Regions from separate parts of the Homo sapiens genome. Here region 2 is reported to be linked to region 1. Evidence: microRNA targets listed by miRTarBase, many of them from high-throughput screens and not tested one by one. Region 1 holds a microRNA gene; the other region holds the end of a gene's coding sequence.

Evidence for each region. Region 1 holds the annotated microRNA hsa-miR-5572 (GUUGGGGUGCAGGGGUCUGCU, at 1,837-1,857, opposite strand). A microRNA usually pairs through its seed, bases 2 to 8, with sites in the 3' UTR of a target mRNA and lowers its output. Matches are read on the target gene's strand: a 7mer-m8 pairs with bases 2 to 8, a 7mer-A1 pairs with bases 2 to 7 and ends in A, and an 8mer does both.
Region 2: the mRNA of NAA50 is a reported target of hsa-miR-5572. Seed matches in the 3' UTR shown: 7mer-m8 at 389-395.

Annotation. Positions count from the first base shown.
Region 1 is chr15:80,578,885-80,583,035 of GRCh38, reverse strand. MIR5572 (microRNA 5572) reads right to left here and starts at 1,933; the gene lies at 1,797-1,933. It overlaps ARNT2 (aryl hydrocarbon receptor nuclear translocator 2), which reads right to left. Exons shown (of 19, transcript NM_014862.4): 16 at 2,487-2,625; 17 at 1,632-1,797. It overlaps ARNT2-AS1 (ARNT2 antisense RNA 1), which reads left to right. Exons shown (of 2, transcript XR_007064732.1): 2 at 275-3,006.
Region 2 is chr3:113,718,077-113,722,076 of GRCh38, reverse strand. It overlaps NAA50 (N-alpha-acetyltransferase 50, NatE catalytic subunit), which reads left to right. Exons shown (of 5, transcript NM_025146.4): 5 at 140-4,000. The coding sequence ends at 317. Among named protein-coding and RNA genes, the nearest start is that of USF3, 23 kb to the right of the region's middle.

The sequences.
Region 1 (4,151 bases):
GGTTTTTTTGAGTAGATCGGTGCCAGATGGTCCCTGGGCTTCCGGGAAGGACTAGGTACCCAGGAGGCCTTGAGTCTATGAGGCCCACCTTCAGGAGGAGGTGAAGGGGTCTCTCCACACCCGGGTGGGGAACCAGATGTGGAGAAGGATCTCACGTGTGACTGCAGGAAGGTGGATGCTATCCTGAGAAACAGGATTCTGGGCTCAAGGTGGTAACCGTGCTGAGTGCCTGGCTGACTTGAGAGCAACTGCTATGGGGTTTCTCCTTCCTCAGACAGGGTGCTGTGCTTCTAAACTGGGTTCCAGTGAACCACGTGGCGAGAATACTTAACAGACGAAGAGGAGACACACTGCAAGTAAATGGGACTAAGGCTGGAGGGACAAGCATGGCCTCAGGAAATGCTGTGCCCCAAGACCTCGGGCTGAGTGGGACGGACGTGCTGCTGTTAGTGGAGGAGGTGGGGAGGGCTGGGCAGCAGATGACAACTCCCCATTGTGTGCTAGGGGCTCTGCACAGCATTTTTCTTTCTTTTGTTTTTTCAGACAGGGTCTCACTGTGTCACCCAGGCTGGAGTGCAGTGGTGTGATCATGGCTCACTGCAGCCTCAACCTCCTGGGATCAAATGATCCTCCCACCTTAGCCTCCTGAGTAGCTGGAATTACAGGCATGCACCACAACACCTGGCTAATTTTTTTTTTTTTTTTTTGTAGAGACAGGGTTTTGCAATGTTGCCCAGGCTAGTCTTGAACTCCTGGGCTCCGGTGATCTGCCACCTTGACCTTTCAAAGTGCTGGGATTACAGATGTGAGTCACCGCGCCCTGCCTGCACAGAATTGTTCATAAGGCTGACAGACAAGCAGTTCTAATGGAAGCTTTTAACTTGCCACGTGGAAATTCAGATGTTTGGGCTCAGATTCACGCTCATCTGAGGAATCAATTCTGTAGAGAAAAGCTCTATGAGCCGCACTGCTGGGTGTCACCCAGTGACCTCACTGTGAGAAAGCAGGCACCAGCTTGGACTTCTTACCAGGACCACGGGTCTCTTATGAGCTTGTCCTGACGTGGAGTGGAACCCTAGCCCTGGGAGACATGCTGAGGAGGTTCCTTACACACACGGAGAGTGGGCAAGGCCCAGGATCCTGAGAAATGCACAGGACACAGCGGTTCCTTAACCCTCTATGGCCTGAGGTTTTGTTAACAAAGTAAGATAGGTGTTTTTAATATTTAAAAGAGACAGAAAACTTTGCAGTGTTATTTATGCAATTGATTGTCTCTATAGCTATTCTCTAGTTTCTTGAAACAAGACTATAAGGTTTTTGACTTGGGGGACCTGAAAATCCTTGCCAGGGCCATAATGGGTTAAAATGGTATTCAGATCACCTCACAGCACAGCAACATCATCCCAATGCCTTGAAAATGATAAAGTCAAATCACAAAGCCAAGGCCTAAGCATCCAGTCTCTTAGGAACACCATAGGCCTCCTCATAGCCAGAGAGAGAGGAGGTGCTTGGAAACCTCCAGACCTTGTTTTGGTAGCTGGGAGCTTGGAGCTCAGCCTCCTGAATTCAGGCTGTTCAGAAAGCATTTGTGCTGGCTTTCCCAGAATCTCACTCCCTCATTCCCCACCTACCGAACCCTGGAGTCCTGTTGGCAAGACTGGAGTAGGCATTCCCACTTGGCGAGGAGGTAGCTGGGCTGGAGAGGGGGCTGTAGGAAGAGGGGTCTGCCGGGTAGGTGTGGCTCGTTCCAATCCCAAAGGGAGATGACTGAGTCTTGCTGGACTGAGATGGGATTTGCTACAATCAGGACAAAGCAAAGAGATGGAAAGCATCACCAGCAGACCCCTGCACCCCAACCGATGCCCCAGGCTGGTCGCAGGGGCAGTGCCTGCTCTGGGTTGACAGTGACTCCCCATGACCCTCTTGTCTGGCTAGGCACAGGCCTGGGATCAGCCCGGTGTGTGAGGGCCCAGGAACTGCAGGATCTTTGGGGCACGTCTGGTTGAAGTTACTCCCCAGGGCTACGAGGATCCGGGCCCTCTGGAGTCTGGTTACCAAGGCCTTGGCATTATGAACACCTAGAACTCCCTCAGCCCAATCAACACCCACCCTCACAGTGACTATGAGGGTCTGGGGATGTCACAAGGGTTGGTGGTTTCATGCCCTCCTGGCGCAGGGGCAGCCAGAGGTCCAGAGTAGTGAGGGGCTCATTCTTGATGAGGTGTCTCAACCTGCCCAACCTTTCCCTGCCAGCTGCCTCAGGGCATGGCTGTAAGGAGAAAAGGCTGCTGAAGTTGCAGGCTGGGCACCTGGCTCTCCGAGAGCCCTGAGGGTGGATGGTGCTCCTGAGTAGCCAGCTGCTGTTAGGGTGGTTGGTTCCAGCTAGGAGCCGACCCATCCTCAGAACCGCAATCCAAAGAAAACACTTCCCAGAGTGCTCTGCCTCTCTGGTCACCCAGGGGAGATGCCCTCACAGATGCCCATACCTGTCCCGGAAAGGGCGGACGACTCCCTGTCCATGCCACCTGACTCTGGTTTAGCTGCCGGGAGATTTGGGACATGTTCTGGCCCGTGGAAGAAGAGGACTGAATATCATTCACTCCAGGCACATGAACCACTGAAGAGCTAGAAAAGAGGAAAATGCATTTATCCCGAGGACACACCTGGTTTGCATGAGTCTACGTGCCCAGCCAACCACACAATCTGCCCTGGGCCATCTTCCTGGCTCTCTCTCCATGCAGCACGTCACTAGAGAAAATGACTCACACATCGTGAGCCTCAAAGCCCCTTGGCCGTCCTCCTCTCCCTTCAGGGCTTCCTCTACACTGCTGAGTAGTCCTGCCATGTCTAGTAGTCTGGTACTTCCTCTCCTCGTTCTCCCCAGGGTCTCCCACGCACTCTTCAGCCCCTATCCTATGCCTGTACATCCTCTGCTCTCAGCAGATGATTTGGTTCCCAGAAAGAGAGAAGCTTCTTAGAATAAAAATCAGTCCCACTGTTCACTCACTCTTTTGTGCTCTGGTTAATTTGTTCCTTTGGGGCACCTATGAGGCTTAAGGATTCAGGAAATAGGTTGCAGGCTGTCAGTTTTAAACGGAAAGAAAAGCTTCTCAATGAAAACCTGCTGGATGGGGCCTAGTCCTGCTACCCAGAGTTTACCCCTCCCACCTTCAGTTCACCTTCGACTTAACTCAGTTTGTCTTTATTAGGCCCCTGCTGTGTGCCGTGCTCTCTGCATGGCCTTTGCAGGCTAAATCTCTGACCCTGCTTAGCTCCTCGGCAGGCACTGTCTGTACCACCAGGCGCTTCTTCCAGGAGATTTTCCAGGCTATGTCGATTACATGAGAAGCTCATCAAAGACTAAAAGGCTGGGGGCAGACTTTTACTTTGTTTCAGGCCCCTCCTCCTGCCTCCCTGGGACTAGCTCAGCATGCAGGGCAGTGCGCTGGGTGCCCATGAATCAGTCAAGTAGGGCAGAATGGGGCTCATCACAGAAGGCTTTGGTAGATTTTCAGCTCCGTGTTAAAAAAAAGGCAAGCCAGAGATCAGCAGAGATTGGGTAAAATTTTACTATTGTATTCTAATAAGTTTCCTATGCTATCTGATCCCTTTTAAAATAGGGAGAAACCAAGAATGTCAGAGACATTCTTGAGCTGATCATTGTAAAACAAGTTCAGTGGCTTATATAAAGGGGACATCATTTCTGTCTTCATACAATCAATTCCTCATTTAACATAAGGGCTCCTTTCCCATTCTCCTTCCTGATGAAAGTATTGCTTCAGAGGACATTTTCTGGTCACTATTGTCTAGTAGGACCCTCTCCACAGCCCCCAGCCCTTGGTGTCCTCCCCAAAACACTGACTGATGAGGGCCGCTACAGCGTAGACGGTCCTAGGAAAGGCGCCTTGGCAGAAAGGGATGGGCTTCTTGGGGCAAAGCGCCAGCCCTTGTGCACAGCCCTCCCTGGGGGCCTCTGGGCTACAGCTGCCTGCCTTAGTGTGGACAGGCAGGGGCCAAAACTGGCGGGACCAGAGAGGGAGGACTGTGGGTGAGGATGCACTTCAGGTGCCAGCAACACCATTCTGCAAGCGGCCCAGGATTCCCTATGGCTGTATTGGGCCCCAGAGTCCTTCATCCCACAGCCTACCCCA
Region 2 (4,000 bases), not on the chromosome of region 1:
GTAAGCATGCCTAACCCTTGTTGATTACTGGTAGTTGTAAAGAGAATGTAACAGATGTTTGGAGCTATCTGTGGAGAATGCTTAAAACTTGATGAAACCTTAATTTTAATTTTTTTTCTGATACTCTCTTATATCTCAGGCATGTCCAGATCAGCAATGAGTCGGCAATTGACTTCTACAGGAAGTTTGGCTTTGAGATTATTGAGACAAAGAAGAACTACTATAAGAGGATAGAGCCCGCAGATGCTCATGTGCTGCAGAAAAACCTCAAAGTTCCTTCTGGTCAGAATGCAGATGTGCAAAAGACAGACAACTGAACAAATTACAAATGAACTTTCTTGCACTTGCTTGTCGCCAAATAAAAGAGAGGCCCATTGATTCCTCCCCCACCCCAACACTTTTCTTTTAAAGCTTTTCTCCCTCCTTGTTCTTGTTTTTCTTTCTTCCTTTCCTTTTCTCTGAGAGTTTTAATACTTTCAAGGACTTTAAAAAAATAATCATGTTTGAATTGTTTTCTCTTATTTTTGTGAGGTGGTTTGAAGGAAGGACAAGGTAGATCTGTTTAGTTTTGCAGTTGAAGTTAGATGGTCCTAAACATTTAATTGTCAAATAATTTCAAATTTAATGTCCTGCTTTCACATTGAAGGGCAGAGCCTACAAAACATTGTATATTTCAAAAGACAAAAAGAAGCAGCAGCAGTATCTTGTTCTCTAATTCATAGACAAGTTGAGTGTGTTTGTGGTACTTTGGGTTTTTAAACACTTTGGGATACTAATCCCTAGACATTGCCTTCACTCCACCTTTAGTCCTTCTGAGCACTCTCTCGGGAGTTGGAACATTGTTATCCTTGTAAGAAATACTAAGCTTATGTTGATTTTTAAGTAATTATATCTTCTCTTCTTGCTGGTGGGTGGGGCAGTTTGGTTTAGTGTTATACTTTGGTCTAAGTATTTGAGTTAAACTGCTTTTTTGCTAATGAGTGGGCTGGTTGTTAGCAGGTTTGTTTTTCCTGCTGTTGATTGTTACTAGTGGCATTAACTTTTAGAATTTGGGCTGGTGAGATTAATTTTTTTTAATATCCCAGCTAGAGATATGGCCTTTAACTGACCTAAAGAGGTGTGTTGTGATTTAATTTTTTCCCGTTCCTTTTTCTTCAGTAAACCCAACAATAGTCTAACCTTAAAAATTGAGTTGATGTCCTTATAGGTCACTACCCCTAAATAAACCTGAAGCAGGTGTTTTCTCTTGGACATACTAAAAAATACCTAAAAGGAAGCTTAGATGGGCTGTGACACAAAAAATTCAATTACTGTCATCTAATGCCAGCTGTTAAAAGTGTGGCCACTGAGCATTTGATTTTATAGGAAAAAATAGTATTTTTGAGAATAACATAGCTGTGCTATTGCACATCTGTTGGAGGACATCCCAGATTTGCTTATACTCAGTGCCTGTGATATTGAGTTTAAGGATTTGAGGCAGGGGTAATTATTAAACATATTGCTTCTATTCTTGGAAAAATAGAAGTGTAAAATGTTAATAATACAAATGTCACTGTGACCTCCTCCACTGAGAGGACTGGTTTATGCCAGATCATTTTCCGGCACACACGGAGTGGCTTTGACAGATTGATAACTTTGTAAGATGGGAGACATCTGAAATATTCATGTTTTCCTTTTGTAGTCCCATCTCCACTATTTAGAAATGTTCTCAGACTTTAAAATAATGCACAGGGCTTGAGCTTTCTGTCATTTGACTTTAAAAGGAAGTTTCATTCATATTTATCCTCTTATGTAAAATTGCGGTATAAAGTCTCATTTCCAAATATGTTAAATGACAAAATTATTTTATAAAATGTTTATGCACACTTTATAACCTTAAGTTTTTATTTGAGAATGTGAAAGTACAAAGTGCAGTAGACTTCAACAATCTTGAGTGCCAAGAATAATACAGAAAAAGAAGACAGTTGATGAATGAGTTTATAGGGTTCTAATCTTAAGATGGTAAAAATGTAGAAAGACCTTGCTGGTTTTTTGGGGGTATTCGTTTCTTAAACAATCCAAATCTAAGCTTAGAAGAAAAGTTTAGCGTTAAGCACCTTTATCTTCATGAATAAGCTTCAGCTTGCTCTTGGCAAGAGAAGAGTGCTTGAGTTACAGAAGGCATAAGTAGTTTGAAGAATGCAGCAGCCTTTTTGTAAACTTCCCAGATATCAAAATAGACTTTGATATATAAATGGTTTTCTGAGATGACACTGCCTCTATTTCTATAACCATTTCACCTGGACTATCTAATCAGTCCTATGAATGTATCCCTAAATGTGGTTATTGAAAACCTAATAGCTGCCTCATGACAAGTACATGTTATTTAAGGAGGAAAAAATATTAAATTTTGAATTGAGTGTGTAGGCTCCCTATCATTATATATAGAGTTTCTTTTTCCACGGTAGTCAGTGACTTAACCTGAATTGTAAATGTTTGTAAAGGGTTAATTGTCCTACATCAAACTTAGTTAAATAATTCCATCCACTTATGGAGGAGGAGGAGAATGTGGAAGAGGTAAAAAGCTGGGCACAAGTTCATATGCCTATGAGTCAGTAAAGACTGAAGTAATGTCCTATGTTGAGCTGGTTATTTTGATATATGATAATAATTATCTTTGAAGTAGAACAATTCTGTTAACTGGAAAATCACAGGATATATCCATCATATTTTTCAGGACAGATAGTTTTTACTGTGGGGCAAATAGGTTAAAATTACACTATGTTAGTTGCATTTAGGTTTTAAAGCAAAGAATCTGTAGAGAAATCTATGCAATATATAGTTTGTCCAGATTAGCTTTCATTTGGGGAATGAAGTTCTGAAATATCTAAAGCAGTTTACTCATCAATTGAAAAGTCCTCCAAAAAGAGAACTATTGGGAAACCATGGTGTGGTGGTGGAAAAGAAAAGCTCCCTCAGTTTTTTGGAGGGAATAACTTAAAAAAATACTTAAATGGCTAAGTTTACTTGGTGCAGTTAAGAATTAAACTTGTCAATTTTAACATTGCTGTTACATCTGAAATAAACTTATGTGATGTTCTGGTAGTGATCTGTGATATCTGTAAATGTCAAAACTGTATTGTTGAATTCTGCAGCCAGCAACCGTACATACTCATTGTGTAGTGTTTCCCTTACTGCTTTTATTTACTTTCACATTTAAGATCTAATTTTAAAATCATTAAAATAGGCCAAGTGTAATTAAGGCATCCTAATTCAGATCTTCTGTGACTTGCTAGGTACAGTGCCCAATATCTACAATTCAGTTCCAATGAGAGGGAAAAAGTAAGATCCAAGGAACTGTCTTGCTGCTGTATTTTTAATGTAATTATTAGAAATACTTGACACTTTAGGCTGCAATCTAGTTAGTAATGTTTATTGGCTACAGACAACATATTCAGGTGTTTTGTTTTTCTTCCTTGTAAGGAAGGAGTACGGTAGTTCAATGAGTTGGGAATTGGCTTTTAAGCTTTTTATCAAACATGAATTTAAGATTTTTTCTTTAACAGAATTCAGTATTTAATATTTCTAGTCAAAATTGTTATAATTAGATTTTTGCTTTTTTCATTTAAGAAGCAATGAGTGATCCTTGTCTAGTGTGTCTCAGTTATTACTGTAGTTTAAAACAACAAACAAGTATTACCTTCCACAGTTCTGGATCAGGAATCTAGGAGCTGCTTAACTGGGTGGTTCTGTCTTGAGATCTCAGAAGGTTGCAGTCAAGCTGTTAGCCAGGACTGTACCATCTTGAAGCTTGACAAGGCTAGAGGAGCCATTTCCAAGATGTCTTGCTTACGTGGCTCTTGGGCTTCTGTTCCTCACTGTGTGGGTATCACACACAGTGCCTGATGCTCACGTGGCTCTTGGGCTTCAGTTCCTTGGGCACCAGTTGCCTGGTGGACAACTGGTATGTGGCTTCCCCTAGAGCAGGTGATATAAGAAAGTGAGCAGAAACCATACTTTT